Linked DNA regions of Homo sapiens. The protein of the gene in region 3 purifies or fractionates together with the protein of the main gene of each other region. This does not show direct contact. Each region holds a gene or a part of one and is shown on either strand. Other genes may lie near its edges. The genes, in order: ZPLD1, PNMA8A and RARG.

Evidence for each region.
Region 1: the proteins of RARG (region 3) and ZPLD1 purify together in Homo sapiens (affinity purification with mass spectrometry; 2 studies listed by BioGRID and IntAct, with this or other methods). This does not show direct contact.
Region 2: the proteins of RARG (region 3) and PNMA8A purify together in Homo sapiens (affinity purification with mass spectrometry; 2 studies listed by BioGRID and IntAct, with this or other methods). This does not show direct contact.

Annotation. Positions count from the first base shown.
Region 1 is NC_000003.12:102,428,824-102,439,647, forward strand, and holds the start of ZPLD1 (zona pellucida-like domain-containing protein 1 isoform 2 precursor), read left to right. Parts: upstream 1-6,191; 5' UTR 6,192-6,291; coding exon of another isoform or gene 6,292-6,331; intron 6,332-8,036; 5' UTR 8,037-8,150; intron 8,151-9,656; coding exon of another isoform or gene 9,657-9,664; coding exon 9,665-9,770; intron 9,771-10,824. UniProt on the Homo sapiens protein: Glycoprotein which is a component of the gelatinous extracellular matrix in the cupulae of the vestibular organ.
Region 2 is NC_000019.10:46,467,293-46,478,235, reverse strand, and holds the start of PNMA8A (paraneoplastic antigen-like protein 8A), read left to right. Parts: upstream 1-6,672; 5' UTR 6,673-6,899; intron 6,900-7,121; 5' UTR 7,122-7,200; coding exon 7,201-8,503; coding exon of another isoform or gene 8,504-8,574; intron 8,575-9,658; coding exon 9,659-9,675; coding exon of another isoform or gene 9,676-9,697; 3' UTR 9,698-10,943.
Region 3 is NC_000012.12:53,227,764-53,238,218, reverse strand, and holds the start of RARG (retinoic acid receptor gamma), read left to right. Parts: upstream 1-6,009; 5' UTR 6,010-6,245; intron 6,246-6,983; 5' UTR 6,984-7,050; intron 7,051-10,455.

The DNA.
Region 1 (10,824 bases), on a different chromosome or scaffold from region 3:
TACACATTTTAAGTCATAATAAAAAGACTAACCGGTTACTTAAGTAGGTCAAATTCTTTAACACATTAGAACTGCTAAAAAAACCAACACGCATAGATTCTTTAACATTAAGACATTTACCTAATTGTTGATTATTTTAAACATGTGCTTATATATGCCTGGGCTTAAGTGATACTTATCCACTTGAAACACATTTGTCTTCTAAACTAACTGAAATTACTTATTAGTCAAAGGTTTTGGCTGGGACTATGGCTAGATTCTTATTTGCAGCCATCATGCAACATAATCCTATTTATAGTCTATGTAAGGGCTTAATAAATTAGGGAAGTTCATGTCATTGTTGTTATAGCCCACACAACTCATCTAACTCATGTAATCTAAGTGTTTAACATCCCTTAGATGCAAATGACACATTACCCAATTCTCTCTGCAACCATGCAGCTTTTAATATTTGATTAAAATTTTGCATTTCTTGATTCTTAACATATTTGAATAACTTGTCATGCCACTTTATTTCTGATTTGACAGAATCTTGCATTTTCTCCCATTCTTCTGGTCTGGTAGGACCATGGAATTCTTACAGATTTAAAATGTTATCTGACGAGGGGGAATTTCTATATTACAAGAGACTAATGGAATATAACAACCAAATGTAATACATCATCCTTTTCACTTAGTTGTATTATCTCCTTGGACTCTTTTTAGGGTTTACTGGATTGGGGGGGAAAGTTATATAATATATTTTTTATGAATTGAGAAAGTTTGACTATGACTTGATATTGGATGCTCTTATGAATTAATTGTAACTTTCTTGCGATTGATAATGCCATTGTGGTTATGTGGAGAAGGCCCTTATTCTTGAGATGTGTGCTGGAATATGGATCAAAATGTCTAAAACTAACTTCCAAATGACTCAGTATCCACCACCACCACAACAGATAGATGGATGGATAGATAGATAGATGTACATATGTTTGGATAAATACATAGATAAAAAAGATGAGAAATGCAATATCTAATTGGAATCTCCACATCTCAAGGCTGTATTAGACTCTGTTATAGTCCTAGTTTCTGAGAATGTAACTTGTGAGTCATTCTTGATTCCTTTTTCGTACTCACTCTGCACCTAGAATGCAACAAGTCCTGTTATTTCCTTTTCAAAATAATATTTTAAATATGTTTACTTTAATGCACCCCTAGTATTATAACAGTAGCACTCAATTCAAAAGTCTTCAATGATTTTCCATTCCACTTAGGAGAAAAGGTGTAGCCCGGCCCTGCTGCCTACAGGGAGACAACTTCTGGCCCTCTCCTCCTAGCTCAGGATGATGGACTTTCTTCCAAAAAAGTTTCACAAAGTATTGACTGTTTTGACATTTGAGGATCTGTGGTCATGCGATGAATGCTACCTAGTTCACCTTGCTCCAGCCTTCATCTGACTAACTTGACTCAGTCCTTCAATACTTTTCAACTGTTGCATTTCTCAGAAAGTCTTTTCCTGACACCTGCCATCTAAATTAGGATCTACTGTGCTTTACTTTTCTTTCATAGCACTTTCCTAACATATTTTGCAAACATTTTTTAATGTGCTTGATTATTAATTTAATAACTCCCTCTGTCTATAGTCTATAAGCTCTGTGTGGGTAAAGCTTATGTTTGTTTTGCTTACTTCTGACTTCCCAAGACCTTGAGTCCAATGCTTAGAAACTGCTCACCAAAAATATGTGAAATAAATAATTAATTAACAGAAATCTCAAAGAGAGGAGTACTATAGGAAAAAGAGCTGTTTTATTCTTAGGAAAGGGTTGACAAAGATGTGAAATTATATTGCCATTATTCATTGTTGGTACCCATGAACATACATTTGAATATCGGGGAGTGGGTTTATATTCAGCCAAAAGATACTGGCATTTTGTCCCTTGTGATTGATTCCTGTGCTGTGCCTTCTCATAAATATTTTGCCTATCATCTCTATTGAGAAAGAAATATTTTTATTCTGATGTAATAATACCAATAGTCAAGTTTTCATTGGAGGGAAATGAGCAATTAAGATAACTAGTAAAATTATTATTTTATTATTAATTTGTTATGATTACACTTCATGAAAGGAGGAAGGAAGTCAATATGCTAGCATATCTTCAAAGCTGCTTCAGAAGAATAAAATGTGCAAATATCTTGAAAAGGAACCTGGTGAATTATTAAGGGAAAGCTTTTAAAGTGACTTAGTTCCACCTATCATTTCACTTACTCCCCCAAAACTCAGATTGTACAATAAATGTTCTAAACTAAACACTGTAGATCATTTAAATGCTGTAGATTACTTAAGAAAACCCTCAACAGAAAGACAAATGAGGAAGGCAGGCAAAGGGAAATAAATGAACACTCACTTTGTGTCAGAGAAAATTGGAGTAGGTTTTTCTCTTAGGAGCAGCCTTTAGCATTCATATTTCCTTATGGTATACATCAGCATCTTAAGAGCCATAAAATTTCTGAATGTCTTCTTGTTGGCTCAACATATTTCCTTCTTTGTTTGAGGCATTATTCTGAAAGTACATGGTGTGTTTTTTTCTTTATTTAGCAAGACAAGGACATTCTACATTAATGAATGTATATGTACATAATAATGAATATTTCCAATGAAGGTCATATATTTTCATTTTTCTTTTAATATATATGTTGACTCTAATGTGCAAGTGCAAGATAAAGATAAAGAATATAGAGCTTCAGTCTAGACACCCCATCAGAGAACATGTTTCTTTATTAAGGAGTTGTGATCCTTAGCACTTTAAAACTAATGATTTAGGGCCGGGCATGATGGCTCATGCCTGTAATCCCAGAATTTTGGGAGGCCGGGGTGTGTGGATCACCTGAGGTCAGGAGTTCGCAACCAGCCTGGCCAACATGGTGAAACCCCGTCTCTATTCAAAATACAAAAATTAGCTGGACGTGGTGGCGGTTGCCTGTAATCCCAGCTACTCAGGAGGCTGAGGCAGGAGAATCACTTGAACTCAAGAGGCAGAGGCTGCAGTGAGCCCAGATTGTGCCATTGCACTCCAGCCTGGGTGACAAGAATGAAACTCTGTCTCACAAACAAACAAACAAAAAACAATAATGATTTTGAAGGGCGAGTTAATATGTACTTTTCCTGGAGAGAAGACTGTGTAACATCATGATTCTTAGCTGGGCAATACAGTTGCCTACCTGTGTGGCTTTAGTGCCCGTTTACCTAGGATCTATTAGTTGTCCAATGCTGGAGTAGAGTTTCATCCTTTAACTTAAACTTTGATCTCTGTTAAAATACACACATTTTTTTCTCCTTTTTTCCTGAGATCTTTTAATGTTTCCAGTAATTTAAACCTTAATGAACTGTTGTGATCTTTTCTGCAGAGCAGGTTTGAGTGAGTGATGCAGAAGCACTGGGTATGAGGCCATGCCCCTACAGGAATGGCAGCCTGTGGAGAGTAGCTGCTCAGTAAATGCAGTGGAGAGCCAAGAATTAGAGGACTGGGGCCTCACCGATGCCAAAGAACTCATTTCACATTTTTGTGAATCTGTATGATAAAAAACTAGCTTTAGTTTAGTGGGGAAAAGTGCATAAATCTCAGATTGATGTTTAACATTTGAAGAGATGATATTTAGTTTGAATTTTCTATTTTTCTTTCCAACTATAACAACAGATCAGCCTATATCAAGGCAATGAAATTAAGGAAATTTAAAAGTTTGATAAATTGTTGAGGTCATTTGTCTCTGCAAAAGTTATTTCTTGAGAGCAGATAAAGGCACTTTCGAACATGTTCACTTTTTTTTTCAGGTCACAGGGGTGCTATTTAATAAATTACTTTTCTCAGGCACTAAGAGCCACCTTTATTCATCTGAAAAGGTTAATGCAGATTTTTAAAGTGTCCAAGTTATTCCCAAAGAGTAATTTGTGCACTAGGAAAGTCTATTTTATTTGAGAAGTAGCTAAATGGCAAGAAAAAAAAAGCAAGTGAGGTATACATTATAGACACATAGATCTGGGTTGTTCATAATCAATGTTCCCCCCAGCAAGCTTCATTTATATGGGTTAGTTATATATCTCTGACCACTTTATTTAAAACTTCAATATTTCTTCCTTCCACCTTAGAACTTCCTACTATTCTTCTTGCTTTATTCATCTCCATAGCACTTATCACAAATATACTCTATATTTTACTTGTAGATTTTGGTTCCTTCTGACTTAGAAGTTAGAATGTAAGTTCTATGCAGATATGCAATAAAAATTTTTCTGATTGCTGTACCTCAGCATCCCCCCACTCCCTGGAGAGTACCAGACACATATAAACATTCAATAATTATTTGATCAGTATACACAAGAATAAAGCAATACTGATCAAATTTACCAAGAAATTGCCAAATTTCCATTTGATTTAGCATTATATGCATCATTTTCTGGAAGGCGGTGCCACATAATAGTTGAGGGTTGTTTCTGTAGTCATTGCTCCGGGCGTGAATCCTGATTCTAACAGTGGCTGTCTGCTTAGCATTGGGCAAATTACTTCAGATTACTGTGCCTTAGTTTTCTCATTCCCCAGTATAGGGAGAATAAATTGCCTATCTCATAGTTAGAAAACACATATAAAAGTATTTAAAACACTCTGGTACACAGTCAGCTCTTAAAACTTATAAGTATTACATTAAATCAATTTTTGAAAAGAACAATATTCTTTTTCTTTTTGTCTTGAGACGGAGTCTCGCTCTGTCACCCAGGCTGGAGTGCAGTGGCGTGATCTCGGCTCACTGCAAGCTCCGCCTCCCGGGTTCAAGGCATTCTTCTGACTCAGCCTCCCGAGTAACTGGGACTAAGGCACCCGCCACCACGCCCGGCTAATTTTTTTGTATTTTTTTAGAAGAGACGTGGTTTCACCGTGTTAGCCAGGATGGTCTCGATCTCCTGACCTCGTGATACACCCGCCTCGGCCTCCCAAAGTGCTGAGATTATAGGCGTGAGCCACCGCGCCTGGCCAAGAACAATGTTCTTTATGCACTCACTGCCTAATGAAATAGAGTCATGAAAATTATGTAGATATTAAAAAATATTTTGTCTCAATCATCTGAATTATTTAATTCAGAGCATATCTTAAGCATACATTATTAATATAATTTACTTTCTGAAAATTAGTAGGACATTAATTTTATTTGAAAACCTCCAATCAAGTCAAAGAGAATAATGTAATAATTCCAAATGTCAAGCTCATTTTTGAATTCTGCATTGCCATTTACTATGTCTGTGACCCTGTGCGAGTCAATTAAAATATTTAAGCTTTGGTTTTCACATTTTTAACATGAGTAAAAATTAAATCTATGTAATTAGTTGAATATTAAACATAGCACAGTGCCTGGTACATACAGTAACAGATCTCAATAAAAAGATTAAACAAAGATTATTTTATATTAAAATCTAAAGACCAATGTTTGTGACAGAACTATACCAATTAATATAAAATTGAGGAGGAATTAAAAGTGCATTATATTTTTCTGACTCCAAATTTAATTCTAAGCAAAGAAATTAGAGATTTATATGTTGGAAGAAGTCATTTTAAAAAGAAAATTTAGTATGAGAAATATTGACATATTTGACAGCAAATCACTTAGCATATGACTTCCTTTTCTATTAGTAACAGTTTATGAGATACAGATGTCTCTTTTTTTACACAAACACTTCTGAATTTCTTAAAATTCAACATTTTACTTATAATCCTCCTTCTCCTCCCCATTCCCATCAATTTAAACTTATGAAGATTCTAAATAAGAAACACATACAAAACTCTTTTGCACACATATCTTCAAGGCCATTATCATCTCAGACTGTGGTATTAATATTTTGTATTATTGGATGTATTAGACAAGGCATTCTTGTAAACCACTATTAAAATCCAAGCAGAGACATTGGTTGCTGCACTTAGATGTGGTGGAGAAGGTGAAAAATGCTTCTGCTCAGATTCTCTGTCAAGAGTTTGCTGGAGCCACAGTGGGACAGCAAGCACCTTAGATTATTCCAGAGTAAACCACAGAATCAGGTTCTACATTCTGAAAAGAAACTCCACTAAACCTTTATAACCAGATCAGAGCTAAAATACACATGTCTGGAATTGCACCTGCCTAAGATCTAGGGAGCCTGAGCAGCCAGGATGATATGTTTTTGAGGAATGTAAAGGGTGTTAACATAATCCCCCAATCCCATACAATTCAATTTCAGAAAAGTATTTAGGGACTGTGCTAAAATAGCATCTCCAAGCTTGCTATGGCAAGATGATGCTCAGGTTTTCCATGTGCAGGGGAAATGATGAAGGTAAGGTTGAGGATGGGAAATTTGCAAGATAATAGTTCATCAGTTTGTTTTAACTTACAGTTGAACTATAAAGAAGGCTTGAAAATGTCGTAAGCCCTGCCAAGACTATAGAGATTCAAAATAGGGATACTGCCTTTATAAGAGATATGGGTGTCCTTTTAAAATTCCTTGCCTAATGTGCCTTAATATTAAAACACAGATCAGCACAAATATCATTGTAACTCAAATAGAGATTCAACCAATTAGGGATGTCACTAGCCCATGAGACACTTTGTATTGTAGCTTAGCTCTAGAGTACATGGCTAGTCCAAAGAAGTTCAGACCTAGACATTGTTTTCCTGCATTGGATGCCCTTGTGGAGGGTACGACCTGCACATCAATATGTGGTGGCCTTGAAACTAAGTTTTCAATGCCTTCTGTATGTCCAAACTATACTATACTTTATGCACTTATACTTTGTAAAGTCTATGATCATCATCTTGATTTTTTTTTTTTTTTTTTTTTCTGAGACGGAGTCTTGCTCTGTAGCCCAGGCTGGAGTGCAGTGGCGAGATCTCAGCTCACTGTAAGCTCCGCCTCCTGGGTTCACCCCATTCTCCTGCCTCAGCCTCCCGAGTAGCTGGGACTACAGGCTCCCGCCACCACGCCCGGCTAATTTTTTGTATTTTTACTAGAGACGGTGTTTCACCGTATTAGCCAGGATGATCTCGATCTCCTGACCTCATGATCCACCCGCCTCGGCCTCCCAGAGTGCTGGGATTACGGGCGTGAGCCACCACGCCTGGCCATTATCTTGATTTTTAAATGACAAATCTACAGAATGGCTGAGAAGGGATTTATCTGAATCTATACCTGCTAACATAAAAATCAATATATTTTCTGTTAAAGAAAGCTGCCTTCTACTTCCACCTCGTATTCATTAAAAAATGGTTAGGGTATTAATCACTATGAAAGTGCTGTAGGTTTTGTTAAGGAGAGTAGGACAGTGTCATGCCTTTTTGGGACAACCTGAGATGTGATTTAAAGCTTTAAGGCTAAGAGTTTACTACTTGTTCTCAGTGAGCTGTTTCAATTAACATGAGTTTTTCATTTATTTTTGGCCAACACAAATGTGTCTAGTTTAGTCAATAATAATTTTTTTGCTGTTTTCACAATGAGAAATAAACAATTCTCTCTGTCTCTTTTTTAAAAATAATTTTATTTCTCATAATGCCCCATTATAAAATATATCTATAAAGAAAATTGTATTAATTACATCAAAATTGTTTACTCATTATAAATGAACAGATCTATTAAAAGATACACAAAGTAAAAAGCTAAAGAAAACAGCTGATGATAAATGGCAATAAAGAAAATCTTAAATTTAATAACAGATGAAATTTAGGTAGCTTGTTCAACAAACTTTACTATCAGAAAGACTTAGGGTTGAATTCTAGTTCCTCCACTTCATTTTCACGTCATTTAAACCTTCTGAGACTCATTCTTTTCTCTGTACATGCAGTAATAATTGTAACCTCACCCATCATTATAAAAAATATAAATGAGCAGCTATAGGAAAGTTATCTGGCACAAAGTGCCTTCTTTGTGCAAAGTGTACATTCAGTAAATGTTATTTTCTCCTGTGAAAAATATATGTTAGCTAGAAAGCATTTCAGAACCACAAAATAACTCACCAACTTAAATTCCTGATTCTGTAATTTCTTAGGATACACCTCTGTGTTGGGGACAACAGTGTGGGTCTAGAGTTTCCAATGTCTTCCAGGAGTTCTTGGGACCCATCATGAGAAGGAAGTGGTGGAGCATGGAGCATGGAATAAATGTGGGTGCAGTGGAGTGTATTGCTTATTCAGGCTTCTTTCTTTTCTAGTGTCTTCCAAAGACTCCAAAAGAGCAAGACTGTCTTATTCTAGTTGAAGTATCTTGAGGAGCTAGATAATGATGGCGCAGGTATGGCCAAGAGCTCCTAGGGTCTGGGTCAGCCACTGGTGTGAGCCTTTTGCTTATGGACTGTCACAGGCAATCAGAACTAACTAGGCATATGGCTGTTCTCTCCAAAGTCTTTAGATCTGTGCCCGAGTACTGTGTGATAGTGCCAAAGGAAGGAAGTTCCTGCTGAATTAATATTTTTTTTCAGTCGATTTTTGAGAGTGAGCATGACTTTCTTTCCCACATCCTCACCAAAGTGACTTTATTCACTGTAAACTTGTTATTCTGAAATGATGATTCAAAAGCAAGATGTGTTTCCTTCCTTTTCCTAAAGACTTGATTAATTATCTAAGGGTAGATTTTTAAGGACAGCTAAAACACCATTTTCCTTCCAAAACCCAAGCTTTTAAAATCCACTAAATTATTTGAGTAAACCACTTGCAATTTTATTTTCTTTTTGCTTTTTATGCGTAGACCAAGACCACCAACCCAAAAGATTCTTTTCAGTGTACAAACTATGCTCTGAGAATAAGTTAGGTATTCCTGAAAGATGTTTTAACTCTATCAGGCCAATGAATGGGCATCCAGGAAAAAGAATTATTAAACGCAAAACTGACTGGTGTTTAAGTAAAAGTCCATTTCTATTTAACTGTTCAACCCACACTGATACATTTAAAAAAATCTTCCATTACTTTATCCTAAGAATTCAACGTTTTCTTATGTCTGTATCAGTCCTTACTACCCACCAAGGAGCAGTTGTGGGAGGAACTGCAATGTTGTTCACACACAGAGTATTTTCCTGTTCTTCCTTTTGCTTTATCACTATGTTTCCTAAGAAAATGACACACAAACCATTGATTTTGAAAAGTTGCAGTAGTCTGGAATTCTTCTGTTGGGGGAGACTTTTTTCTGTTTTCTGTTAAGGGAAAGTTGTTATTTGGTCATTAAGATTATTGAGATTCCTCTTAGAATCAAGTATCCAACATTTAAATTCCTCTGACTATATACTTGTTGGTATTGTAAAAAGTAGACTCATCTCCAAATTAGTCTGCCTAGTTATGCTATTCCAATCTGCTAGATACTTGGTTTGCGTTCTTCCTATGCATAATAAAGAAGTTTCCTTTTGTAAACTTTATGATTTATACCTTAGCTCTTCTACTATGAAAATCTAGCTTTGTCACCCTTAGCCAACAGGAGGCAATGATGAAAACAATATTGAAATGTTGTAACCCAAATATCTGCCTTTACTACCGATAATCCTCAGTTATTTCGTGAGCTTTGGCTGCATGGATGTAAACTGCTTATCCAACAGTGAGCTGAGATCAGCCTCAGTTTTTCCAGTAAGTAGGAGTGAAGGAGTTAAGTGGGAGTGTCCACATGATAGATATCTCTTTTCCAGGTTTTGCAATGGAACAAATATGGTTGCTGCTGCTTCTAACAATTAGAGTGCTTCCGGGGTCTGCTCAGTTCAACGGCTACAACTGTGATGCCAACCTCCACAGTAGATTTCCTGGTAAGTGTAAGCCTAATCTATTCTCTAGTTGTTTCTGGAAGAGTGATTATATTTGAAGAGCAAGTCATTTAAATATATATGGAGAACGGGGGGCTATCTCTTTACATTAAGTGGATATTAACAAATGGCAAATGACAAGACATTTTTCTGGAGCTGTAATTTATATCCATATTAACATACAAAGTGTTCATCATAGTTAATATTATTATAATGGCTGCTCACAGATATGAAAAATATTGCCTACTGTGTAAAAAATTGGGAGAGACTAATTTCATTCAAAATTTGTGTCTTTTTTTCTCATAAATTAATTTAGACTTTAAAGAACTGCTCTTAAATGCTAATATTTATTTAGGAATAATCTTAAGAAAATGATTGTAAAATATTGTACAATACAAAAAAATGCTATTTCAATGAAATGATGATTACCACAAAGGACACAGGTGAGCTTCAGAATGAATTTCACAGAAACCCATCAACGTTGTGACAAATACGAGATTTGGCAACATTGATGGGCATGTCCCACAGGTTTCTAAAACCTGCATTCAATGATAAGTTACTCAAGGTTTTACCTAGGTATTCATCATTTTATATTAGCTAAAGTAATGGAACCACAGTTCAACATTTACAAAATAAATATTAGGTAATTGGAAACAATTTTCCAAGTCTGCCATGCAAATGGAATCTCTTTGGCCGTGGTTTACATTCTCAAAACCTGCCAGTCCTCCTGTGTTTGGAGCATGCTATGAAACAGCAAACCTGCATAGAGCAATCAGTAGGTAGTTACATAGATAAAGTGCGATTTCTACAACAGAGCCCACATCAGAAATTGTCTGAATGTCTTCATGAACTTAGACCTAGGATGTAAGTGCTTGGTTTGTTAGTAAAATATGAAGGTCACGGTGGGAATGACCAAAGGAATTCAAGAAAAATTTGCTAAGGCAGAGTTGTTAATGGCTTTGAATATCAAAAATGAGCTTTTTTTACATTTATTATTATGGAAAACTTCAAACATACAAAAGTAGAGGTTAGTAGAAAGAGCACTCATATTGATTAT
Region 2 (10,943 bases), on a different chromosome or scaffold from region 3:
TTTGAGAGCCTGGCCAACATGATGAAACCCTATCTCTACTAAAAGTACAAAAATTAGCCAGGTGTGGTGGTGCACGCCTGTAGTCCCAGCTACTTGAGAGGCTGAGGCAGGAGAATTGCTTGAACCTGGGAGGCAGAGGTTGCAGTGCGCCACTGTACTCCAGCCTAGGAGACAGAGCAAGACTCTGTCTCAAAAAAAAAAAAAAAAAAAAAAAAAAAAAAAAAAAAACCAGGTGTAGTGGCTCATGCCTGTCATCCCAGCACTTTGGGAGGCTGAGGCGGGTGAATCACCTGAGGTCGGGAGTTCGAGACCAGCCTGACTAACATGGAGAAACCCTGTCTCTACTAAAGATGCAAAATTAGCCAGGTGTGGTGGCACATGCCTGTAGTCCCAGCTACCTGGGAGGCTGAGTCAAGAGGACTGCCTGAGCCCAGGAGATGAAGGCTGCGGTGAGCTGTGATTAAGCCACTGCACTCCAGCCTGGGTGACAGAGTGAGACCCCATCTCATAAAATAAAATAAAATAAAATAAAATAAAATAAAATAAAATAAAATAAAAATTGTGGAATATTCCAAACTCAAAGTCAAGAATAGAGAATTGACTGGGCACGGTGGCTCATGCCTATAATTCCAGAACTTTGGGAGGCTGAGACAGGAGTTGGAGACCATCTTACCCAACATAGTGATACCCTGGCCCTACAAAAAAATTTTAAAAATTAGCTGGGCGTGGTGGTGCATGCCTGTGGTCCCAGCTACTCAGGAGGCTGAGGCAGGAGGCTCGCTTGTGCCCAGGAGGTTGAGTCTGTAGTGAGTTGTGATCCTGCCACTGCACTGTAGCCTGGGAGATAGAGCAAGATCCTGTCTCAAGAAGAAAAAAAGCTGGGTGTGGTGGCTCATGCCTGTAATCCTAGCACTTTGGGAGGCCGAGGCGGGCGGATCACGGGGTCAGAAGATCGAGACCATCCTGGCTAACATGGTGAAACCTCATCTCTACTAAAAATACAAAAAATTAGCCGGGCGTGGTGGCGGGCACCTGTAGTCTCAGCTATTTGGGAGGCTGAGGCAGGAGAATGGCGTGAACCCGGGAGGTGGAGCTTACAGTGAGCCGAGATCGCGCCACTGCAAGCCAGCCTGGGTGACAGAGCGAGACTCCGTCTTAAAACAAAACAAAACAAAACAAAGTACAAAAATTTGCCAGGCATAGTGGCGGGTCCCTGTAATCCCAGCTACTTGAGAGGTTGAGGCAGGAGAACTGCTTGAACCCAGGAGGCAGAGGCTGCAGTGAGCCGAGGTCGCGCCACTGCACTCCAGCCTGGGTGACAAAGTGAGACTCAGTCTCGAAAAAAAAAGAATTGATATTTATATAACTAATCCTCATGCATCCCGTGCCATTCTTCATCAAATCTTAATACTATGCTAAATTTATTTACACCTTTTTTTTTTTTTTTTTTTTTTTTTTAGCATTATTGGCTGGACTCAGCAGCTCATGTCTGTAATCCCAGCACTTTGGGAGGCCGAGGCAGGCGGATCACTTGAGGTCAGCAGTTTGAGACCAGCCTGGGCAACATGGGGAAACCCCTTCTCTACTAAAAATACAAAAATTAGCTCAGCATGGTGGCACGTGCCTGTAATCACGGCTACTCAGGAGGCTAAGGTAGGAGAATCGTTTGAACCCTGCAGGTGGAGGCTGAGTGCGCCACTGCACTCCAGCCTGGGGGACAGAGTAAGACTCTGTCTCAGAAAAAAAAAAAAAAAGAGATTTATATAATTAACCCTTATGTATCCCTTGCCATTCTTTATTAAATCTTAATACTATGCTAAATTTATTTACACATCTTTAAACAAAATTATTGTTTAAATAGGCTGTGTCCTACCTCCCATATGACTTGCCCTCTTCTTCTCCCCAGAGATAGTCACTTGGAGGATTATTGCATTTAAAAATCCAGTATTTATCAAAACTCAGTGTCTGTCATTCCCTTGCATGCCAAAATAAATAACTGAAAAAGAGAGAAGAAAAAACAGACAGTGTCTAATTCTAACTGAGTCACTGTGTGACTCAGTTTCCACTGCAGCAACTTTGTCTGCAGCCTGGATCACAAACAAGCTCCCGCATTTGTAAAACTACTTGGCAAACATAGCAAAAGCCTCTGAGATTCAGCAAACATCCATTCCATTTCATTTTAGTTATGATGTTTTACAATCCACTGCTGGTATAAATTTACTTTTTATCCTGTCTAGATTGACGATTTTCTTCTTCTTCTTTTATTTTTTTATTATTATTTTTTTTTGGTCTGACAAATCCTTAGCAGAATTTTCAAACACACTGAGATGTTTTGTTTTCTCTTTGAAGAGAAAGTTCCAGAACTTTGATTCTGTGCTCATGCACTGGGGTTGGGTGGCATTCCTGAAGGGGCAGCCAGGACTGTTAGGAATATTGGCTCTGCAGAAAGCTGAAACCTGGCTTTTGAGGCAAAGCTGAAGGCATCTCTCTCCCTCCCTTGCCCCCCATCTCTCCATTCTGTAACGCATTATTTGTTCACTTTTGTAGTAAAATACACATAACATAAAATTCACTATTTTAACCTATATTTATTTTTCAAAAAATAATTTACTTTTTTTTTTTGTTTGTGAGACGGAGTTTCACTCTTGTTGCCCAGGCTGGAGTGCAATGGCACAATCTCAGCTCACCGCAACCTCCGCCTCCTGGGTTCAAGCGATTCTCCTGCCTTAGCCTCCCAAGTACCTGGGATTACAGGCATGCACCACTATGCCCGGCTAATTTTTGTATTAGTAGTAGACACAGGGTTTCTCCATGTTGGTCAGGCTGGTCTTGAACCCCTGATCTCAGGTGAGCTGCCTGCCTTGGCCTCCCACAGTGCTGGGATTACAGGCGTGAGCCATCGTGCCCAGCCCGTCTTCATTTTTCTACCTTCACTCCTACTAGCGTTCCTGGACCCAGATGTCCTGGATGCAGAGGTCCCTCCTGTTACGGTGGTAGACGCATCTCATTCCCATGGGGGTCCCAAATACTTCTCTAGAGTAACTTTTTTTTTTTTTTTTTTTTTTGAGACGGAGTCTTGCTCTGTCGCCCAGGCTAGAGTGCAGTGGCGTGATCTCGGCTCACTGCAAGCTCTGCCTCCCGAGTTCACGCCATTCTCCTGCCTCAGCCTCCTGAGTAGCTGGGACTACAGGCGCCCGCCACCACGCCCGGCTAATTTTTGTTGTTGTTGTTGTATTTTTAGTAGAGACAGGGTTTCACCATGTTAGCCAGGGTGGTCTCGATCTCCTGACCCACGATCCGCCCGCCTTGGCCTCCCAAAGTGCTGGGATTACAGGCGTGAGCCCGCGCCGGCCTCTCTTTCTTTTTTTGAGACGAAGTCTCGCTCTTGTCCCCCAGGCTGGAATGCCATGGTGCAGCCTCGGCTCACCATGTTGGCCAGGCCATTCTCCTGCCTCAGCCTCCCGAGTAGCTGCGATTACAGGAGCTTGCCACCAGGCCCGGCTAATTTTTTTGGATTTTTAGTAGAGACGGGGTTTCACCATGTTAGCCAGGATGGTCTCGATCTCCTGACGTCCAGATCCACCCGCCTCAACCTCCCAAAGGGTGGGATTACAGACGTGAGCCACCGCGCCCAGCCTCACAGGAACACTCTTGTTCTTGCATCCTTGAGCTTCCAAATAAGAAGTTCAACGATCTACCCTCTGGTTTTCATGCTGTGAGGAAGCCCAAGCCACATCAGTGCTTCCATCAACATTTCCCAGCTGAGCCCAGCTTTCAAAGGATTTCAGCCCAGGCACCAGACATGTGAGTGAAGAAACTCCCAGATGATTCTAGCTCTCAGTCATTTGAGTCACCCCCAACTGTCACGGGTACGACTAGGTGCGGCGGGTGTTGTGGGCAGTAAAGGTATTTACCAAGACAGTTGTAGGTAAAGAAAGGCAGATTTATTAGAGAAGATATGAAAATACATTGCACGGTTGCAATGGGCAGCACAGCAGAGAAGGGGGCTGTCTGCAAAAAGGCAGGGACTGGAAGTTTCATAGGGGTATGCTGGAGGGGGCTACATGCAGAAAGAGGTCATTGTGCCCATGGGGGATTGTGATTAGCCATCTCTCAGAAAAATTGTTCATTGTTCTTCCCAACCTGGAATGCTGTGAACCCGGGAGGTGGGGCTTGCAGTGAGCCGAGATTGCGCCACTGCACTCCAGCCTGGGCGACAGAGCGAGACTCTGTCTCAAAAAAGAAAAAAAAAAAGTGTTCCAGTGAATGAGGAAGAAGCTGCGTGCCCTTCTGTAACATAGTCTGAGAAGCCACATAGCTTCCTTTCCACTAAACTCCATTGGTTAAAGTAGTCACAAGTCTGCTCAGATTCACGAGGAGGGGACACAGATCGTCACTTCTCAATAGAAGTGTCGGAGAATTTATGGCTATGTTTTTAAACCACTGCCTAAAAATATACACTCATTCTTCCACTGATATGTAGAATTTCAACATATAAAGCACATGAGATTTAAAGACTTTAATCATAGCTAGAGTGTTTATTGGAATATTCGGTGTGAATTATGTGAATAATCAGAGGTTAACGATTTGAATGACACAACTTTTTAGCACAAAATATGATGGAAACTTGGGCAATCACACAAGTATTGATGATGCCCAAATTTAGGAATGCCAGAGATGACAGTGAAATGAACATTTGGCTATTTGGCCTTGCAAATGTCAGTTTCAAAAATGAACCCAAAGAACAGATTTTGGTTGAATACCAAGGCCCAAATTGTACTTCCATGCATCTTTCAGATGAGATCCCCCCGAATCTTCAAAACTTCCAAATCAGGAAGATTTTTTATTAGAATTCCTATTACAGAGAAAAGAAATAAGCTCAGCGGGGTCAAATTATTTCTCTAAGATCACACAGCCAGGAAGGGACATTGGTAGGTGGATCAGTGAGGGACTGGCAAAAAAAAAAAAAAAAAAACAGATGGCCAGTCCAACCGAGTCTCATAGGAGTGCTTAATTAATTAGTTTATTTTTTTTGAGACAGGGTCTCCTGGGTTCAAGCAATCCTCCCACCTCAGCCTCCCGAATAGCTGAGACCACAGGTGACCCCTATCACACCTGGCTAATTTTTTGCGTTTTTGGTAGGGACGGGGTTTTGCCATGTTGCCCAGGATGGTCTCGAACTCCCCAGCTCAAGTGATCCGCCCTCCTCAGCCTCCCAAAGTGTTGGGATTACATGCGTGAGCCACAGCACTGGGCATTAATAAACTATTAACAAAGTTCTTGCTCATGGGCAGCAAGGTTGAGGTAGGAGGCCCAGGGGACTCCACTGAGGATCACATTGAAGACTGGCCAAAACCTGGAAAAGGCACCGAAAGCCTCTCTCCATAAGACATGCCTGCCAGCACCATGACAGTTTACCATTGCCATGGCAACACCCATAAGTTACTGCCAATTTGCTAATTCTGAAAACCCACCCCTTAATTAGCACGTCATTAAAAGTGGGTATAAATGTGACTGCAGCCTTGCCCCGAGGTGCTATTCTCAGCACACTGCCTAGAGGGTAGCCCTCCTTGTTAGGTTTTGGAGGGAAGGTGAGGGTTAAAGACACACAGACAGAAGGCGGCTCAACAGCAACTCAGGTATACTGCAGACACCTGTGGAAGTGGGTAACCAGCCTAATGCCAGAGCCCACTGCTGCTTATAGGCTGGGGGTACTTATAGTTATGGGTGGGAGGGGTCTGAGCAGTATGGTTTGCTGCCCAGCAGGATGTTGATAAGATGGTTCCATGATGAGGCGGTTCTGGCCCTTGTTCTGGTGGAATGTGGTGTTCTCTGCACTTTCTCCCAGCAGAATATGATAGGGATGTTTCTTCAGTTGGGCCTTTGCACGATAGGGTATGATAATGTTTCTTTAGCTGGGCCTTTGTCCGCCTTGTGGTCAGGTGATTAGGCAGGATGTTTCTCATTGGCCCGAACCCCCGTGGAATATTTCACTTTGACCAAGATCTGCAAAATAGTCAGGGCTTACAAAATGGTTGCAGTTTGGACTAACACTTCTCTGTAGGGGCAGTCACTGAGCTGTAACATTGTCCCCTGCCTGGAGGATGCCAAGAACCTGCCCTGAATCACGTTGAGGAAACAAGAAAAGGCGAGGCATTATCCTCATGCTAGAAGGGGTCGGGGAGGAGACTAAGAAATTTCTAGAAGTTTCTGGAAATTCCTGGAAGAACCCAGCAGCTTGTAAGAGAGAAGGCTACAAGCCCAACAGGAACTGCACCTGCTGTTGGAGGAACCCAAGAAGATTAAAGCCTCGTTTTCCTCCTTTCTTGATTTCTAGTGTCTCCCAAGAGTTGCGTTGGGTGAATCCAACAGGTGGGGCAGAGGATAATACAGTCAGTGGGTGCAGCCATAGGTGTTGGCGCTTCTCATCGACCTAACCCCCGTTCGCGAGGCCCACTTGGGTTGAAAGAGGGCCTCCGTGGAGGCGCCACCGGAGTGTATCCAGACCCGCTTGCTCTGCGACCTGAACAGGCCACTCTTGCACCCGGCTCCCTAGGTCCAATTGCAGCGCCGGCGCGCCGGCCGGGCTCAGCCCTAGCAACCCACGCCCGGTTGCCATGGAGACGTCGGCACCTGCGCAGCCCAAGACCCCCGAGCGGCGGTGCGGGAGCCAGTGCGCAGGCGCGCGCTGCGACGCCAACCTCGGCTTCTCGCCGCTAACGGCATCGAGTCTGGACGCCCCGTGACCCGCCTGGGCCGGAGCGGGGGCGGACGGCGCCTTCTTGGCCCTTTCTGCCTCTAGCAGCGGCGCCGGGGTAGCCGGAGCCAGCGACTGGGAAACGGCTGCATTCCACTGCGTCTCCTTGGCCTGGCTGGGCGGTCGGAGGCTGATCTGCCAAGTAAGTCCCGGCTGGGCAGGCGGAGCGTCAGGCCCGGGGGAGGGTCCTAGGGCCTTTTGCTGCAGATTCAGGGACACGTGTGAGCACCGGGGCCTGGGTTGGGGAGGAGGGTGTTGGGAAAGCGCCAGGCCTCCTGCAGGCCAGCCGCGGAGGGGGCAGCTAGGATCTGTGAGCTTGGTCATCTTCCTGGGAACGTGACCTCGCTCCCTTGTCACCTTGCAGGATTACTGTTTGGAGACCGCTGCAGCCCACGTCCACCTGATAGACTATTTACTACACATAGTAGGTTCAGAGCCGCTAAATGTCCAAGACCATGGCGATGAACCTTCTGGAGGATTGGTGCAGGGGAATGGAAGTGGACATCCACAGGTCCTTGTTGGTCACAGGCATCCCAGAGGACTGTGGGCAGGCAGAAATTGAGGAGACCTTGAATGGGGTCCTCTCCCCACTGGGCCCGTACCGCGTGCTCAACAAGATTTTTGTGAGGGAAGAGAATGTTAAAGCTGCCCTCATTGAGGTTGGTGAAGGTGTGAATCTGAGCACCATCCCCCGTGAATTCCCAGGAAGGGGTGGTGTCTGGAGAGTGGTCTGTAGAGACCCTACCCAGGATGCCGAGTTTTTAAAAAATCTGAATGAATTCCTGGATGCCGAGGGGCGCACCTGGGAGGATGTGGTCCGCCTGCTCCAGCTCAACCACCCCACCCTGTCCCAGAACCAGCATCAGCCCCCAGAGAACTGGGCAGAAGCTCTGGGGGTGCTTCTGGGAGCAGTGGTGCAGATCATCTTCTGCATGGATGCCGAGATCCGCAGCCGGGAGGAAGCCAGGGCCCAGGAGGCCGCTGAATTCGAGGAGATGGCAGCCTGGGCTTTAGCAGCAGGGAGGAAGGTGAAGAAAGAACCGGGGCTTGCAGCAGAGGTGGGTTCTGCCTTAAAGGCAGAGACCCCCAACAACTGGAATGCCACGGAAGACCAGCATGAGCCTACCAAACCTTTGGTTCGCAGGGCTGGAGCTAAGTCTCGCTCCAGGAGAAAGAAGCAGAAGAAGAACTCCAGGCAGGAAGCAGTGCCCTGGAAAAAACCCAAAGGCATCAATTCCAACAGCACAGCTAACTTGGAGGATCCTGAGGTGGGTGATGCTGAAAGCATGGCGATCTCAGAGCCGATCAAGGGCAGCAGAAAGCCCTGTGTGAATAAGGAGGAGTTGGCTTTGAAGAAGCCCATGGCGAAATGTGCCTGGAAGGGTCCCAGAGAGCCACCTCAGGATGCCCGGGCAGAAGCCGAGAGCCCAGGAGGCGCCTCTGAGTCAGACCAAGATGGTGGCCATGAAAGCCCACCAAAGAAGAAGGCCGTGGCCTGGGTGTCTGCCAAGAACCCCGCTCCCATGAGGAAGAAGAAGAAGGTGAGCTTGGGCCCTGTCTCCTACGTCTTGGTTGACTCAGAAGATGGCAGGAAGAAGCCGGTGATGCCAAAGAAAGGGCCAGGCTCAAGAAGGGAGGCATCAGATCAGAAGGCCCCTCGGGGCCAGCAGCCTGCCGAGGCAACAGCCTCAACCTCTAGGGGTCCGAAGGCCAAGCCAGAAGGCTCTCCTCGGCGTGCCACCAATGGTGAGAATGATAGCAGAAGTGACTGGGCTCGTGCCAGCAAGTGGATGAGGCAGGAGGAGCAGGAGTGGCAGGTGGGGCAGAGGAGCCCGAGGAGGTGGTGGGTCAAGCGGGTGATGAGGAGGACCCTGGTGCATGGCAGGAGGTGGATGACACACCAGTTGAGGAGGGTAAGAGCCCAGACCGCCCTTCCAGGAGCCCCTGAAGGCCGATGCTGGAGACATCTGGTGGGCAGGAGGTGGCAGAGGAAACCCACAATGAGTGTCACTGTGGTCATTTGCCACTCCATCTGACCCATCTTCCTTGATGAGAATTTAATGGTTTGGGCCCAGGCTTGGTGGCTCATGCCTGTAATCCCAGCACTTTGGGAAGCCAAGGTGGGCAGATCGCCTGAGGTCAGGAGTTCAAGACCAGCCTGGCCAACATGGTGAAACCCCGTCTCTACTAAAAATACAAAAAATTAGCCGGGTGTGGTGCCACATACCTGTAATCCCAGCTACTCGGGAGGCTGAGGCAGGAGAATCTCTTGAACCCGGGAGGTGGAGGTTGCAGTGAGCCTAGATTGTGCCACTGCCCTCCAGCCTGGGTGACGAGAGTGAGACTCTTGTCTCCAAAAAAAAAAAAAAGAATTTAATGATTTGGGAGGCCAAGGCAGACAGATCACCTGAGGTCAGGAGTTCGAGACCAGCCTGGCCAACATGGTGAAACCCCATCTCTACTAAAAATACAAAAATTAGCTGGGCATGGTGGTTTGTGCCTGTAATCCCAGCTACTGGGGAGGCCAAGGCCTGGGATTGGCCTCCAGACATCTGCCCACCAGATGTCTCCAGCATCGGCCTTCAGGGGCTCCTGGAAGGGCGGTCTGGGCTCTTACCCTCCCTGAACCTGGGAGGTGGAGGTTGCAGGGAGCCAAGATCACACTGCTGCACTCCAGCCTGGGCGATAGAGTGAAACCCTGTTCCCCCCTCCCCCCAAAAAAAATATTAATACTTTGGAGTTATGGTGTTTGCAGGGTATGTGGCTTTAAGGGTGAAGTTTTCTAGAGACCTGGCTGGGGAATAGAAATGTTCAGGGACCCAGAAATTTCTTGGAAGTAATGCATTTCCTAATGACACCTCTCTGCTTCCCTTCTTGATCTGTTCTCTCATTTATTTGCAGAATCCAGAAAGGTTTGATCTGGGGGACCACCCATACTGAGGAGTTGAAAGAACAAGGAAGAAGTACCAAGTCAACCAAGTTCTCTCTTGTCACTGAATAAGACTTTGGACTCTCTTAGGGCCCCTGTTGATAGAGATCTGGCCCTGAGGTAAACGATAGGTGAGGTCTTGGGTGGGAGGGAGTTGGGGAAGGGAGGTGGATCTCTATGCCCTTTTCTCTACCAGGCCTGCCGTTTCACCGCCTTCTCTACTCACCTTCTCTTCGGAGGCAGGAGAGTTGGTAAGAGGATTGGGAAAATTCTAGAACATTCATTCCCCTTTATGCATGAGCAGGGTCACTGTTACACTCATCCATGTTCAGCTTTTCTCCCCCACGCCTTGCTCCCTCCTCGGAATGGTCAGCGACCTCTGCAGGCCCTGGCATTTGGAAGAGCTGGGTGGCCCTGCCATATTCTTCCTCCCGCCTTCCTCTCGTGTAACCAGCGGGGTAAGTTAAGCCAGGACCTTCGCTGCAAACCTGGTTTTATTGCTCCTTCAGTCTCCAGCTTCCATCCTCCAGTTATCTAGCCAGGAGGTCCCAAGAGTTAGTTTTAGGGAAAAAGAATGTCTGCCTAGACCTCAAAGTCTTTGAGTTTTAGAGTCTGTTAGTAAAAATGGCACTTTGATTCCCATTTGGGATGAGCCCTCTCAGGAATCCTGTGGGGAAGGGGGGTGATTATAGGGAAGGACGCAGGCATTCCTAGGTCCCCAGCTCTAATTCCATCCATCTACCCAACTGTCACCATCTTTGCACCAAACTGTCACCATCTTTGCAGCAGAAGGTCACTACTCACATTATAGTAAGAGGGGAAAAAAATCTTTTAAAACTTGGCTGTTGGCCGGGCACGGTGGCTCACGCCTGTAATCCCAGCACTTTGGGAGGCTGAGGCAGGTCGATCACGAGGTCAGGCGTTTAAGACCAGCTTGACCAACATGGTGAAACCCCATCTCTACAAAAATTAGCTGGGCGTGGTGGCGCGCGCCTGTAATCCCAGCTACTCAGGAGGCTGAGGCAGATGAATTGCTTGAATCCAGGAGGCAGAGGTTGCAATGAGCCGAGATTGTGCCACGGCACTCCAGCCTGGGCAGCAGAGTGAGACTCTCTCTCAAAAAAACAAAACTTGGCTGTTAATGTCTGCCCTCTGAATTCAGACACACTATATTAGACCAGACCACCATGTGTCATTGTGTGTGTGTGTGTGTGTGTTTGCGTGCGCATGTGTAGAGGAGAGAGCAGGGTCCCTGAG
Region 3 (10,455 bases):
AACCCCGTCTCTACTAAAAATACAAAAAATTAGCTGGGTGTAGTGGCAGGCACCTGTAATCCCAGCTGCTTGGGAGGCTGAGGCAGGAGAATCGCTTGAACCCGGGAGGCGGAGTTTGCAGTGAGCCGAGATCACACCACTGCACTCCAGCCCTGGCAACAGAGTAAGACTCTCTCTAAAAGGAAAAAAAAAGAAAAAGAAAAAGAAAAAAGAAAAAAAATGTTCTGCTTCTTATATAATTGATACAGCCACTTTGGAAATCTATTTGGTGCTATCTGATAAAATTGAACCTGTATATACAGTTTAACTCTTAGTTCTATATCCTAGAAAAACTCCTGCATCTGTGTACTGGGAAACATGTACAAGAATGTTCATGGCTACATTGTTTATAACAGTCCAAACTAAAAACAACTCAAACATTCACCAACAGTAGAATGAAAAAAATAACTTGTGGTATATCCATGCAATGAATACTATGCAATAATAGGAAGACAGCTATGTGTAACAACTTGGATATAGTTCACAAGTTGAACAAAATAAGTAGGAAGCAAAAAGTAATAGAGTATCATTCCATTTATAGAAACTTCAAAAACAGGCAAAGTTGAGCAGTATTGTTTATGAAGGCATACACAGGTGCTAAAACTATAAAGAAAAACAAGTAATTTCTGTGTTTACGATTATTACAAACGTCAGGATTGTAGTTCGTTTTTAGGAGACTGAGGGAATTGTGAAAGGGATGCATGGGGAACTTCTGAAGTATAGGAAATACTCCAGTTTTTGACCTGGATGGCAATGAAGTAGGTATTGACTTTATTCCATTTATTCTGTATACTGTTCATAATATATTTATATACTCTGTACAGAAGGAGGAAATAAAAGTACCGCTTCTTTCTCAGCTCCGTGCCACCTTGTTCAGGTCATTATGCTGATGTTAGAGCACTTCCAAATGCTCGTCTTTCTCACCAGACCTCGAGGACAGTGATCTCTTTATTTCTGGTACCTGTCAGTACCTGGCACATAGCAGATACTCAGTGTTTGCTGAATTGGATTAAATTGAATTTCTCAAGTCTCTCATCCCATAGAGAGGTGGGCAGCTGCAAGAGAAGTGGAAGAACGCTGCTATAGTGAAGAGAGCTCAGGACCACCAAGATCTGGGTTCTCCTCTTAGCTGTGCCACTTCCTAGCTGTGCAATATTGAGCAAGTCACTTAACCTCTCCAGTTCTTACTCCCTGCTCTGTTAAGTGGGGATGAGATAATGTACATGTCTAGCACAATACATGGCACATAGTAGGTGCTCAATAAAAGATGGCTTCTCCACAGCCCCCTCCCCCAGCTCCACATCTTTTCTTCAAAGGAGTCCACCAGAAGGGGCAGCCAGACACCAAAGGGTGGGCTGGAGCACAGATGTAGTTTGGTCAAAGGCTGGCAGACAGGGAGATCTAACTGAAGCTGAATAGAACCCAGGCAGTTGGTGGGAGTTGGCAGGGGAAGCAGGATGCCTGGGTTCTGGGAGTTTCCATCCAGGGGAAGTCCCAGGTGTGGGTGTGGGGGTGCCAGGCTGGCCCCACCCAACACTCTGGCCCCAGGGGATGTGGGCACAGGGAGGAAAGTGGGTCACAGCAGGGCTGGGACTTAACCCCATTGGTTCCATGACCTCTTTGCTGGCTCTAGAGGAGGCACAGTCACAAAGAGGTCTGCTCCCTCTTTCAAGGGGCCCCCAATTCCTTTTCAAAAGGAAGAGACTTGGAACTTTTGTGTCTGGGTAGGAGGAATTGGAAGCTCTCCAGTGGACAGGGGAAAGAGAACCCCGTATCCCCTGGATGGAGATTCTGTGCAAAACAGACAGCTACATCCACCCACACACTGGCTGGCAGACACCTGTAGCACTCGCCTCACACACACTCCAGGCAACTGTGGAGGCAGACGTGCTAGCTCCAGGGAGTGGGACAGGTCAGGGCTGGATCGGGGGAGTGGGGGCATGGTAGAGCAGGCTCAGAGGAGAAGGCCTTCTGTCTGGTGAGGCTCCAGCTGGGCAAATGCAGGAATCCCTCACCCTGGAGGATTTGCCAGCATGGGGCCTTGTTTTCCATAGTATAATCTCAAGTCTCAGCCTGTGAGTCGTCTTCCCTCTCTGTCTCTGTTTCCCTTTCTGGAGGAAATGAATGCATTCAGGTATCTCAGCGTCCTGCTATGACCACAAGGAGGTACTTACCATCCCTCCCTTTTGGCATATTGAAATCCAAGCACGTCACAGGAATGGAAGGCCCCTCTTTTTTGGGGGCAGGGGGAGCAGACTGGCTGAGGGCCAGGACATCAATTCCAGGGCCTTTGCACATACTCTTGAGCAGCACATATATTTCACTGCCCTTCCTTCTCTCTAATCTCCCTCATTTTTTCTCCGAAGACTTTCCTGATCTCCTTGGCGGAGAATACTCCTCTGCTCCATTCTCATGGTCCCTCATGCCTCTCCACACTGATTATTCTAGTTGCAGTTTTGTGGATTATTTGGTTAACAACTGACTCCATCCGACTGTGAACTTGCCAGGGACCATACCTGGGTATTCCCAGAACCTAGCACAGTGCTTATCACATAGTGGATGCCTAATAAAGATTTGTTGAATTAATGCATGGTGCCTGTTCAGGGAAGAAATTCCCAGAGGTGTTTAGGCTAATCCTAAAATCCTGAGCTTCAAAATTAAGTCCTTATTCTATGTGGGGATCTGGGCAGCACTGGGGCTGGTAAGGACCTTCTACACACAAACTCCCTCACCAGGAGAGTCAACGAGCTGGCAAGCAGCAGAATAGGCCTAGTACAAGGGATGGAGTGGAGCAAGCACCAGAGGCAGGGCTGGCACCAGCACTGGCACAGAGCTTGCCTAGGGGGAGGAGGTGGGAGAGGAGAGGAGGAAGGGAAAAGAGAGGACACGTGTTGTACAAAACATGTTTTCATCACGCTCTCCCTGGGTGCCCTGGTCCCCAAGCCCTGACAGCACTTCCATGCCTTAATGATGTCTTTGGGGGCTGCAACACAGCTCCCCCACCACCCCCTATAGTCATCTGCCAGACACCTCTGAGCATGGCATAGGACATCCCCCACACCACCAGATTTGGGCATGGGGAAATGACCTATTCAGTGTCCTGATGCCGGAGGGTTGGGAGGGGGTGAGGGTGAAAATTAGGGTGGGGCAATTTTCATCCTCACCACTGTCCGCCCCCCCAGCATCAGGGCACTGAATAAGTCATTTCCCCATGACTTTCAGGACAGGTGGGACAGATATCTGCATCCTTTTCCTCTCCTCATAATCTCTCCTTTTGGTCTTTGCTCTGGGATGAGGGGAGCAAACAAAGCCTGGTACTAGGGCCCCCAAGATATCATTTCTCCAAGTTGCCAGGGTGACAAAGTAGAGCAGCCACAAACAGAGCAAAGCCTAGAAATAGGGATGACCCAAGGGAAAGAGGAATGAGGGGAGCCCCCTCCACCAGTTTCCAGAGTGGGAAGCCCTCTTCCCAAGCCTCCTCCTGGAATCTCTGGACAGAAAGCTGGCTCTGTTGCAAGCTGGGGAGTGGAGGGTGGGGAGAAGAATCTGAAGCCCTCACAATGCCCCTCTTCCCTGTCCCCCAATCTGCTGCTGCTGTTTGGTTTGACTTCCAAACTGCTGCAGTGAACAGACCCCAGTCACTGGGTCCTGGGGAGGGGCGGTAGAGGGGGCGGGGGTGGAAGCAGTGGCAATCCCAAGGGGAGGGGCCGGCATAGGGCGGGTCTTCCTGGGCATCGCTGCTTGGCTGCTGTCGTCGGCTGGGGACGAGGAGGCCGCCAGAAGGGAGGAGCTACAGTTACCAAGACGGATGGATAGACAAACGCCCACCAGAGACAAAGACCCGGGCAGACAGACAGACAAACCAAGACAAAGGGAGGGCAGAGACAGTTGGAATTCTGACTCCCTCTGTTTTCAGAGGCTACCCCAAGTGTTTTGTCCCCCGATTTAGGCTTCCCTGGCCCCATTTGCTACCTAGATGCACTGTCTCAGAGCTCCAGCTGTAGATCTTTGGGACCAACCCTAAGCCCCTCTACAGAAGGAGAAGGGAAGAGTTCAGAGAGATGATACTCAGCAGGGAGAGGAGAGTGTCACGGGTGGTGCCTGGTTCTGTGTCAGAATGCCTGGCCAAGGAGGGAGTGGTGCCCTTGCCTGGTTCATGAGGACAGGAGGCTCATTCACTGTAAACCAAGTACAGATGTGCTGGAAGGGGGAGGGGGAAATTAGGGCCACATTCCCAAACCACAACTGGGCCCGCCCTCCTCCCACCAGCCACCACTAGGGCAGGGCAGGAGGGGTTAACTTTGCAGCCTCTTGGCAGGAGCCCTGCCACACAGGCGGGGCGCCATCCCACCCCAGCCTGGACGCCTGGGTCCAACTCCCTGACACCCGCCCCTCCCACACTGCTGAGAGCTGCTCCCAGGGTAACCAAGCAAAGTCAACAGCAGCTAGGCCACCTGGGGACGGGACCCTGGAGTATCTATTCCTAGCTCTTCCTATCCCTGGAGTGAAAGAGAGGGCTTGTCTGCACCCCCATTGCCATCTCCCATTCCCTGAGGTAACCACAGCATGCCTCTTCTTTCCCCCATCTCCTTCACCTGACTTTGGCTACCAAAAGCAGCCTTTCCCAGGAGGGAGGACACCTGGCCCCCAGGGGGGAGCAAGGACAAAGCCAAGTAATTCCAGTATGGAAAATGTGACGTGACCCAGGAGTCTGTGTCCCAGGTCCTGGTCACCCTGCGAGCATTGCTGGGGAAGGTACTTTGGGTATGTCTGTCCAGCCTATCAGCCTAGCTCAGACTCTCCCCTTCTCCTCTTTCTCCCTCCCAACTCCAGTCCCCATGGGAGTGTTTGGGATCCGTGCACAGAGCTTGGACTGCAGACCCATTCTTTTCTCTCCCTCTGTCCTCAGTAGAATGCAGAGTGAAACCACTGGGTTCTCTCACTCTAGGGTTGAGAGTCTGTCTATGTTGAAGCAGATAATGCCCCCATCAGACACAGACACTCACTCTCGGCACTGGCATGCGCACGCGCTTGCACAGACACACACACACACACACGCACACACACACACACCCGGAGTCAACAGCATTCATGGCACATCTACCAGGCAGGCAGGCAGGCAGGCCGGTGCTGGCTAGGGCAGACACACACCCTCTGCCTGGGCTTTCTCTCTCACACCCAGCCCAAGGCTCCTCCCACTCCCAGCCACAGTTCCTCCTGCCCTCCTCTCCAGCCTCTCCCCTTCCAAATCCAGGCCTAAAGGTGGGGGACAACTGGCAGCCAGGGACCCAGGCGCCCTAACTCCTGGAGCTTACTCCAGGCAAGATGACAGGGAAGATGTCTGTGAGCCCTGGCCTCAGCACCCCCAGCAACAGCCACTAGTCAACCAGTTTGCTCCTGGGACCAAAGGACTGAGGTGGGCTAGGGGAAGGGAGAGGCTACTTGGATCTGCAGGTGAAGGCTGAGCAAAGAGTAAGGGCAGGAGCATCTATTCTAGATCTGGCATACTCCTGCCCGGCCAATCCAGCACTGGGAGGGAGTGGGTACCGCCCCATTGCCTACCCTGGGGAGGCGCCAGAGACTGGCCTCGCAAGAGTCACAGCCTGGCCACAGACAACTCAACTAGTCCCCCCAAAAGGCAGAAAGGAGAAAAGTGCCAGAGAGAAAAGGTTGGCATCACGGGGCCAGGACACTGACCTCCTCTGCCAGCCGTGCCCGGCCTCCCAGAGGATGGAGTCACGGAAGCCTAGCAAATGGGAAGGGCAGAGACCCAGGCGTCCCGGGCCGCCCCGCCCAGTCCCCCTCCCGCCCACCCATCCCTCCGCCCCCCAGCCCCAGGGCACAGAGGAGGGAGCCGGGCAGGGGCAGGCAGGGGAGGGAGGAGCGAGGGCGGGAGGGGGAGGAGGGAGTTGGGCAGGGAGGGAGGTTGGGGGGGGGGTGGGGAGGGAGAAAAAGAAAGAAAATATTTTCCGTGTCCCCGCCTGCAGAGTCAGTGTGCGGTTTGGGAGAAAATGTGTCGGATATTTTGGGGCGGTCACGTGGGCGGGCGGGCTCCGAGAGGCCCCGGGACAGTCCCAGCCTAGAGCCGTGCCCCCCCAGGAGCCCCCCAGTACGGCGAGCCCCGGACATTGCGACGCTCCATCCAAGAGACTGCCCGACGCCGGGACCTCGGGGCTCCGCCGCCTCCCTTCCCCCTCCCACTCCAGGTGAGTCAGGCGGGGAAGCAGGCTCGCCCGCCCCGTCGCCTGGGTCCTCCGGCGAGGCGGCTGGGGGAGGGGGCGCGGAGGAGCTGCACGGGCGAATGCCCTCCCGAGGCTGGCCAGGCTGGCCGCCGGGCTTGAGGGGGGCTTCTTGCCCCGACCCAGGCCAGTCCTGCTGTGGGAAGGGAATGGGGAAGATTTTAACAGGCTGAGGATGGGCTGGGTCATCTGCCCTTCATTTTGGTGCATAGCAGAGGACAGCATTTGGGGAAGTCTTCAGCCAGGGGGCATTCCTCCTTATATTTTTGTGCTGGGAATGTGAGAGAAGACAGGGTTTCCTCTCGCGGGGAAAGACTACCACCCCCTTACCCCCGGGCTCTGAGGGGTAGATTTGATGTTCCATGCTGGTCCAAGTTCCTCCCTCCCCAGTGGAATGGGACAGCTTGGACATCAGAAGGCAAGGAAAACGTCCAGAGGCAAGTGAGCCTGGCCCTCCGCGTCCAGGAGTTCCGAAGGACTGGTGCATAGGATAGGGATCTGTGAACTTTCCTTGAAGCGCTGGATTCCCTCCCACACGTTCCCAGCCCAGGTGCGAGCCTTGGCTCCCTCCAGCCAAGGTGGGGGGCACCTCTGGAGTATTCTTGAGGGAAGCCCAAATGGAACAAAGAAAGAGCAGGAAGACCGGGACAGGGACCCAGGAGTGCTGGTCCCAGAGTTCCACTGACGCTGCCTCTCTGTCTTTAGCAGCTACGGCCCAGTTCCCTCAACCTGACCCAGTATGTAGAAGCCAGTCTCTGCAGGCGGCCAGCGGGTAAGAAGATGCTTGGTTGTTAGTGGTGGTGGGGGCAGGGGAGCCTGAGTAGGAGGTCTTCAGGGCAAGAAACTGAGATGACTGTCCCGCTTTAGGGCTCTGGTCCTGGGCAGCTGGAATCCCAATCCTCAAGTCTGAGGCTTCTGCCCTTAGGGTCAGATGCTGAGTTGGGGTCAAGGACCATAGCCAGCATCTCATATCCTTGAGGCAAGTAGAGAGAAGACAGGGGAGTGGGGGTAGTGTGTGCAGGGAGCCTGGAGCTTGGGTATCCCATATAGACAGACATACACACACACACACACACACACACACACACACACACACACACACACGCACTGTGGCCTACAGCCTAGTAGGCAGCATGGGGCACGCCCCCCCACACCCCGGCACACCCCCACCCCTGGCTCAGAAAGCCACCTAACTGGCACCTCCAGTTCCCCCCTCTGCCCCACCCTGTCCATGCCCTCTGATGCCCACACACATTCCACTGGCATTGCCTGCCTGCCTCCTGGGCACTGCCCCTCCCTGGGGCTAGTAGGGTGGAGGGAGGGCACCTGGGGATGAGAGGTGGAGACTCAAGGGTCTGGACTCCCCCAGGGATGGCACAATGCCAAGGAAGCCTGGCCCACTGCTGCCTCCTGGGGAGCAGGCTGGGGGCCCAGGCTAGAGCAGAGGATGCCTGGGTTCTCTGCCCAGGCTGGAGATGGGGTCATGGAAAAAGGTGGTCGTGTTTATACAGAGGGGAGGGGGGCAGCGGGTGGAGAGTGGCCGACAAGAGCAGCTTTGTTCCAGGCTCTGGAGCGGGCAGGGCGACAGGGAAACACACCCCCCTCCATCCGGCAGCCCCCTTCATCCATGCCCTCCCCTCAACTCCACCTCAGCTCTAAGAGAAGCAGCTTTGTAAGAGCCCCTCTCCCCTAGTCTGTCATCCCCGCTGCCCCACCATTTGAGATGGCATCTTAGTAGAGGAAGAATGTTCTCTACTTTCCATGAGTCCCCCAAAGAACCAAGGCACCTGGGGCCTCAGTTTAGGACTTCCTTTTACTCTGCACTGCCTTCAATTCCTTAGTCCATTCTCCTACCCTGGGTTTAAGACCCTCCCCTTCTCTTCCCAGCCACGACAGAACCAAGGCTCAGAAATGGGAGGAATCTCTACCCCCTTCCTCTCTTCACTCAACTCCCAAGTCCCTTCTCTGAGGCAAAATAAGAGGAAGGCCAAGGACAACTCTCATTGGCTCACATGCAGCATCATTCCTTGGTGAGGATCAGGAGCTGAGCATCCCTCTGTGGGGACCCCCACTGCCCTACCTGCCTGTGTTTCCCATTGGTAGGTGAGAAGCAAAGACAAGGAGGGCTAAGGCAGAGAGCCCTGTTCCCAGTCTAAGCCAAGTCTGGGGAACATGGGGATGGGGGAGTCCTCTAGTAGCTTCTCACCCTTGTCATTGGAGGGGTTAATCCACCTGGAATGTGGCCTGGCCAGTTGAGCTGTGGCCCAGGGGCCTCAGGGGCCCCCAAACTCCTGGCTCCATCAGGGCTTAACTAGGGATGAGAACTTCGGAGGGGAATAGGAGAAGGAAAAGGAGAGGGACCCTGGAGGCTTGGAGCTCAGACTTTTAGGGCCTGCGAAGACACTGGGCTAAAGAGTTTGAGGGTGCTGGGTGTATGGGTGGTGCCATGGTGAGGGGCAGGGGATGCTTCATTCATAAGGGCTGAGTGAAATGTGATGGCGTTGGGGTCTGGGTTCTTGTAACCTCCATGACAGTTTACCCTCAAGGGCTTGAAGGCCAAGGTAGAGGAGAGAAAGAAAAACAAGCAAAAACAAAAATAAAAACCAGAGGTATAAAGACTGAGAGCTATACATCCTAGAAGCAAATACTGATGGAAAGAAAGGCAGATATACCCATCCCCTACCTCTGGGCCTGCCCACCCCATGGTCTCTCTGCATTTTAGTCTCTTGGCCCTTCTCTGCCCTTCATAGCAGTCTGTTATGGCTCTGACTGGTGGAGATACCCAGGCTGGGGTGACTTTTCCTCCCTAGCCCACTAACTGCCTAGAGAGGTGAGAAGTTCTGGGGCTCCTAGGAAAGCCAAACTTTTCCTTTGTCAGGGGATGAAGATAGGAACCACCTACTTAGCACTAGGATTCCCATCTCCTCTCTCTACCTCCTTCTCCTCCCCTTCCCCTGGGCTCAGGTTTAAACTCTTAGAGGGAAGCCTACTTTTGGGGGAGGAGAGGTTGCAGGGAGAACTTCCTAGAAACAGGGAGCCCAGGGATAAGAAAGAAAAGGAGGCAGAATGCCCGGGCGTGTCGCTCACGCCTGTAATCCCAGCACTTTGAGAGGCCAAGGTGGGCGGATCATCTGAGGTTGGGAGTTCGAGACCAGCCTGACCAACCTGGAGAAACCCCATCTCTACTAAAAATATAAACATTAGCTGTCTCAACAAAACAAAACAAAAAAAGAGAGAGAGAGAGAGAAAAAAGGAGGCAGAGAAGTAAAGTCAGCTGACCAAGAAGCAGCTCCTTGGCATCATACACTTGGCACAAGTGGGGGCTCCATCAACATCCTTAGATTTGAAGCAGTGGGTACAAGAGGGCTTACAGGGTGAGGAAAAATTGGAGACAGGAAGAATTGGGAGAGGAAACTGGAAGAGGGAGTGTTGAGGAAAACAGAGAGGGAAGTGCTTACTGAAGCAGAGTATGGAGGAAAATAAGGTACAAAGAGAACTAATATGAGACATTTACATCACATTTCCTATGTGCCCTACATTATGCCAGACACTTGACATTGGTTAATTTATTTAGTCCTCACAATAACCATATGAGGTAGGCCCTATTATTAGTCCCAAGTGACGCATGAAGAAACTGAGGCACAGAGAGATTAAGTGACATGCCTGAAGTCCCACAGCTAGCAAGTGGTGGGGTACAGTCCAGGTAGTCTGGCTCTAGAGTCTGTCCCCCTAACCTTTGCCTTGTACTCCTCTCCAGAGAGCTGTAGGGCTCCCAGGTTATAACAGAGTTATGTTTGCCTTCTCCAGGATGGTAAAGAGTTTGAATCTGGGCTCCCCCACTTGCAGCCATGTGACCTTAAGCCAGTCACTTCACCTCAGTTTCCTCATATGTGAAATGAGAATCATAACTCCCAGTTCACAGGACTGATGTGAGGTTTAGGTCAAATGCTTAGCCCAGTTGTGGTGATTCATGATCACTTCCCAATCTAGGAGTTCTCTCCACCAGAAGTCCTTAGACCATCATTCACCTTGGGACCTCAGTTTAACCTTTCCTGGAGCTCCTCTGGAGAGTTTCTCAGAGCCTGCATAACCCCCTGCCGTGCCCTCTCTACCACACTGCAAGGGCCCTGAGCCAGGGCAGGATAAACTGTAGCAGCACAGAGGGAGAAGACTGCAA